2 separate regions of the Homo sapiens genome follow, and region 1 is linked to region 2. A link means that fine-mapping ties the variant in region 2 to the expression of a gene that starts in the linked region. Tissue or cell type: spinal cord. Region 2 holds a variant in brackets; the other region holds the start of a gene. All regions are shown on one strand. Distances are from middle to middle.

Region 1 (2,773 bases), 230 kb after region 2:
TAAAAGGAACATAGCTTCAAAAGAAAATTCTTCTAAGTAAAGAAAAGCTCTCTGTTAAGCATGCAAGAGGTTAAACATTGCTGAAATAGTGAGACATTTTCTCAGCCCACACTTCCCAGTTCCATTCAATTACCAACAGCACAAGCGACTATAATACAAGCGAATACTGTATTATTAAATCAGAACTTCCCATTTACATCCACCTCTAACCTGAGGGGGTTGCAAGGGGATGACATTTGCTAGTCAACAGCAGAACAAACAGCCCCCAACTTGGAAATACACATGACCTTGGGGTGTGGAATGCTCAGAGACTGAGTTTCACAAGTTTTATTTGGATCTACTGCATAACAACACATCTAAATGGACCCAGCATGATGTAAATGTTTCTATACCTACCTCCTCCCTTCCAAAAAATGTTAAGAGAGCTCTGCACTTTGAAGTCTATGCTTTAGATATAGGAATAATATTGATGATTAACCAGAGACTAGTCCATTCAAATAATTATTTGATTATATTTGTTCTAAACAACTTGTTGGTTGATTTATTTAACATCATTTGCTAATATATTTGGGGGGTTTCCTGGAATGGTTCCTATCCTTTGAACCCTGCTGAAAGTATTGCTCTAAAATATTTATATTTATAAAGCAAGATATAACATAATGACATCAACTTCACAAAAAGCAAAGCTCTCAACTTCCCCTCTAGAATTTAGTGCATAATCACTAACAGATTGTCTTGTAATAATAATAATAATAATAATAATAATAATAGTAATTATTAAAATATTTTTGTAATCATTGCCAAAAGTCCAGTTTCAAATTATAAAAATAAGCATAACTTGTTTTTAAATTTTTGTATGGCAGTCTGTATTTCTCCCCCACTTGTAATCATTTATAACAATATTATTTTTCTTACCTTATTTTAACAGTCACAAAAGTCCCCCAGAAAGATTCCTAAACGCTGTGGAAATATAAATCACAATAAAAAAAAAAAACTCTCAAAAGATCGTCTTAGCTGGGGAAAAAAAAATAGTTTGGTCTAAAACTATAGAAATCTCCAAAGTCACGCCTGAATGAGCGCCCAGGTGGCAAACAGAGGACTCTCTCCCACGTCCGATACCACACTCCTTTGTCAAGTTGATATGGGTCCTGTTGGTGAAGCGGGTCCCACAGGGCACAGAGGGTGCAAGAGGGCGTTGCCTTCAGGTGCTGGAGCAACTGGTCCGCTCGCGTCTCAGGTTCAGCACCGACAGCACAGTGGACAGTACCAGCTCCTTTCACCTCCAGTTTGTCTCAGTCACTGAACCAGGCTGATTCTCGCTCCTCCTCCCTAGGCAGGAGCTGCTGCCACTCAACCCGGGGGTGCCCCGCCCCCACCATCTGACGTAACTATTTTGCATATCAACTCGCCGAGAGGTGAGGGGCCGCCCCCTTGACTGGGCTTCTGCTAGAGTCAGCTGCGGCAATCGGGGCAACAAAATTCAGGCTTAACGTCAGCGTGGGCATCTTTGGACTTCAGGATGTATTCTCAACCAGTCCAGTAGAAACTAAACGCTTTGACGGTGCTGGAGCCTTTGCCTTCGCGGGGACTGCCGTTTCTGCGCACTCTAAGATCGCTGCGGGCACAGCTCTGGAAGGAAGACGGGGCGGAGAGAGGGGGCAGTGGAGCACGGAGAGGACCGAGTGGGAGGCGGGTGGGGAGGAGACGGAGAAATAGAATGAATCTATTCAACCATTCTTGAAAACATCTCCAATCCTTTTCATCTTCCTGCCCAAACTTTGCTGCCTCTCCCTGCCATTTGGTTATTTGAACGGATCCGTATTTGGTGTTCCTACTCCCTTCCCTCGGTTCACGGAGCCTCTGGAGGGAGTCGCTGCTGCAGAAACTTGCCTGGAAGAAAAAAAAAAAAATTCTGAGCACTGAGAGAAAACGTGAAAGCTTGCAGCGCTAACCATCATTTCTAAACAGAATCTTAAGGAAAAAAAATACGAGTGCTCCATAGTATATATTATACTTCATATGCGTTCCTATAAAACCTACAGAACCTTCCTTATTCATTCTCATGATTTAAACAAATCCTCAAACTGTATAGACTTGGAGATTCCAGAGGGAAAAAAATTAAATAATAAAAAGTGAAAGTTATCAGCTTCAACTTCCACTGCCAAAATTATGAAGGTTATGCAATATTTATTATGTCTACTATATCAATATTTCTATGAAAGATGGGCTATGCTGGAAGCTTTACATAGCCTTTAGCAATTCTCTCAGTATTTGTGATATTTCTTGTCCCAGTGAAGCTCTAGCCTCCTTGAAGGCAAGAGAAAGGGGGCCTGTCATGCCAAATTCCACAGACTGCTTAAACTTGTAAACAAACACTTTCAGTGAACTGAAGCAATCAATCATCCAGAAGGGTGATTATTCACATTCCATGCACATGTCCCACCTACAGCTATCATGACTTACTTGGACAGAGAAGTGGGTATCTAAAACTAAGCTTAAATTTTCTTAAGTTGGATAAAGCATGTTTAATAAAAAAGGTTGTTTATTCAAATAATGTCATAGCATTTCACACATTGCTTTCCATCAGAATGCATACACACTGATATGTGTCATCATATGCCAGGAGTCTGATATCATCTAGCACTGGATCCACTCACAAGCATTTTTCAGGGACTCTAATCAAAGGAATACACTTACTTATTTCCCCATCAGGAAAAATAATGCATTTTATTTTCTCTAATATTAAGAAGTTATTTGAGGAAGTCTATTTACT
Region 2 (2,773 bases):
AATGTTTTGGATTTTTACCATTCAATTAGGTAGTTGTGGTATCTTGAAGTTTTAATTTGCAATTCCATAATCATAACATAAGATTGATTGAGCGTATTTTCATATGTTTGTTTACCATTTGCAAATCATCTTCAGTGAGATGTTGATTTTAGTATTTACCCATTTTTATTGTGAAGGTTTAAGAATTTGTATATTTTGTGTACCAGTCTGTTATCGGATGTGTCTTTGCAAATATTTTCTCCCAATCTGTAGCATGTCTTCTCAATCTCATGACAGTGGTTTTTGCAGAGAAATTTTTAATTATAATTAAGTCCAACTCATCAATTTTTCCTTTCACTTATTATCCTTTGTTATTGTAACTAAAATGTCTTCACCAAACTCAGCCTCTTAGATGTCCTCCATAGAGATCATCTAGGAGTTTTATAGTTGTGCATATTGCATTTAAATTTGTGATTCAAGCTGAATTTTTTTTGAATTACATAAGGTCTGTGACTAGATTTGTCTTCCTTCCTTACTTCCTTCCTCCCTCCTTCCCTCCCTCCCTCTGTTGCTCTCTCTCTTTCTTTCCTTTCTTTCTCTTTTTTAAATATGGATATCCAGTGCTTCAGCACCATTTGTTGACAAGAATATCCTTTCTTCATTTAATTAGCTTTGCTTTTTTTTTTTGTCAGAGATCAGTTAACTCTAATGGTATGGGTCTGTTTCTGGGCCCTCTACTCTGTTCCATCACTCTTTTTTTGTCTTTCCTTTCTCCAGCACCATACTGTCTTGACTACTGCAGCTTTAAAGTACATATTGAAGTCAGATAGCTCAATATGCCTGTCTTCTTCTCCTTCAATATTCTGTCAGATCATCTAAATCTTTTGCTTTGCCATATAAACTTTAGAATCCGTTTGTCTATATCTAAAAAGTAAGCTGGGATTTTCAATTGTGTGATATTTATTTTTATGAATTTTTTTGTGGAATGTACATAACTGGAAGTGACTTTAAATGTTGCCAGTGAACTAAATTACTGGAACAATACACTCAATCATAATCTTAACTACCACTCTAGCAGATGTAGGTAGGCACGTGTGTGTGTGTGTGTGTGTGTGTGTGTGTGTGTGTGTGTGTACATAGTTTAAACTTGGAAATTATAGCTTAGAAAAACATCTAGTGCAAAAGCCCAATACACAAAATAATCAAAAGTGTCACCATTCTGATTAAAGCAGGGGTGACAGTGAGTCCCAGGTATGGCTTCCCTCAGTCTCTCTGACATCCAGTAAGGAAAAAGTGAAAAATTCAGGATTTCTACAGAGTGCTGGACTAAATGATGTCTCATTTTTCCCTCAAATTTATAATTTTTGATGTGTGGCTGGTTATTTTTACTCCACATTTTCTTCACACCTAATGCATTAGAAACAATGTCAGATTTTTTAAGAGCCATATTTATAATAGTTGCCTTAACATCAGTTTTGGGGAAAGATCCTTTAAATTCCTGAGTTTTTCTGGCCTTGAGTCATAATCAGTGATGTAGTGATTAGTGCTTAACAAAAGGCACTGTGTTTGTAGCATTCTCTGGTTTCTGTGTTGTAAAATACTCCCAC[A/C]GTGTCTGATCTGCAGCTACAAACAAGACATCACAGCTGAATTTAAGAAGACATGTGGGCAGCCAGCTCTTATAAACCAGTATAAACCAGCAAAACTAAATTCTTAGCTTTGGCATAAATCTAAATAGAGTCAATGATTAACAATGTTTTCTTCCCCAAACCCCTCTATGGTTGAATTAAAATACTGATTAGTTCATTAATTTCTTCAACAAACTTTTGCACTGGAAATAAAGAGAACCTTATTTTCTAAGAATCAACTTATTACCATATGCAAAGCACTATGCTTCCATGAGAAAGTTTAAAAATATTATATCAGTCATTTTTAAAGCTTTTTTTTTCTCTTTTGAGGATTACACCAATGTTAGTAGCGTTTTCAAAATAGCAAAACATAAGAAGTAAATACAGTGTCTTCAGGTTCAGAACACAGGGTTCACCACTGATACAATTCTGGTTGCTAGTCACATGATCACTCAAGTTCCTTGGATAGTTAAAAAAAATCAGGATGCAAAGCGCTCTATCTATGCTCGTAAACTCATTTGCTTCAACTCTCTACCTCTCTGCTCCAACAGATGTGTTTTAAATCCATTTCATAACTAATTTCTCCAAAAACTTTGTTTATCCCTTGAATTATTTCATTTCCCCTAGCTTAGGTGTTTGGAATAATTGCAAGCTTTTTCAGATTTCCAAGTGCTTATATTCCTTTCCCGGAGCAAAAGACACGGAGTCAATCTGCTGCCTGAATTAGACAAAGGCGAAGGGGGAAATAATAAATACTACCTCAAAAGTATTATACCACTATGATAAAAGAAGGGAACTTAACTCTGTCTAGTAGGGCTCCCAGAAAGCATTCTAAAGAAGAAAAGTCTGGCACTACATAGAAATTAGGGATGTGGACAATAGATGCGTAAAAGGATATTTTAAGCAAAGGTATGAATATATGAGTAGGTTGATCTAATGCTGCCAAAGGGGAGAGATTATGATTATGATTGTTACAAGATGTTAGAGAATTAGGGAGAAGATGATAATAGCCTTGCACAATATGTTTAGGATGTGTCACTGGGACCGTAGAAGCTGATCTTTAATAGCTTTAAGGAGTCTGTGGAGGATAGAAAAGAAAACAACAGGAGTCAGGAAGCCACTACCTTGGTCTAGGTGAATATAGTGTGAGTCAAACAAGAACAGCTATA

Alleles and levels. Positions count from the first base shown, and alleles are read on the strand shown. Sizes are in standard deviations (SD) of each study's normalised expression.
For the expression in spinal cord of the gene that starts at base 1,301 in region 1, A is the high allele of the variant in region 2 and C is the other (large effect, 0.77 SD a copy in GTEx).

What was found. PIP is the estimated chance that this variant, and not a neighbour inherited with it, causes the effect.
Region 1: FSTL5 starts here. The variant in region 2 is fine-mapped to the expression of FSTL5 in spinal cord (GTEx, PIP 0.98).

Annotation. Positions count from the first base shown.
Region 1 is chr4:162,162,700-162,165,472 of GRCh38, forward strand. It overlaps FSTL5 (follistatin like 5), which reads right to left and starts at 1,301. Exons shown (of 16, transcript NM_020116.5): 1 at 916-1,301. RefSeq lists an enhancer at 1,455-1,564.
Region 2 is chr4:161,928,590-161,931,362 of GRCh38, forward strand. The region is part of intron 3 of FSTL5 (follistatin like 5); the gene reads right to left. Among named protein-coding and RNA genes, the nearest start is that of FSTL5-AS1, 93 kb to the right of the region's middle. The variant A/C (reference allele first, on the strand shown) is at 1,587.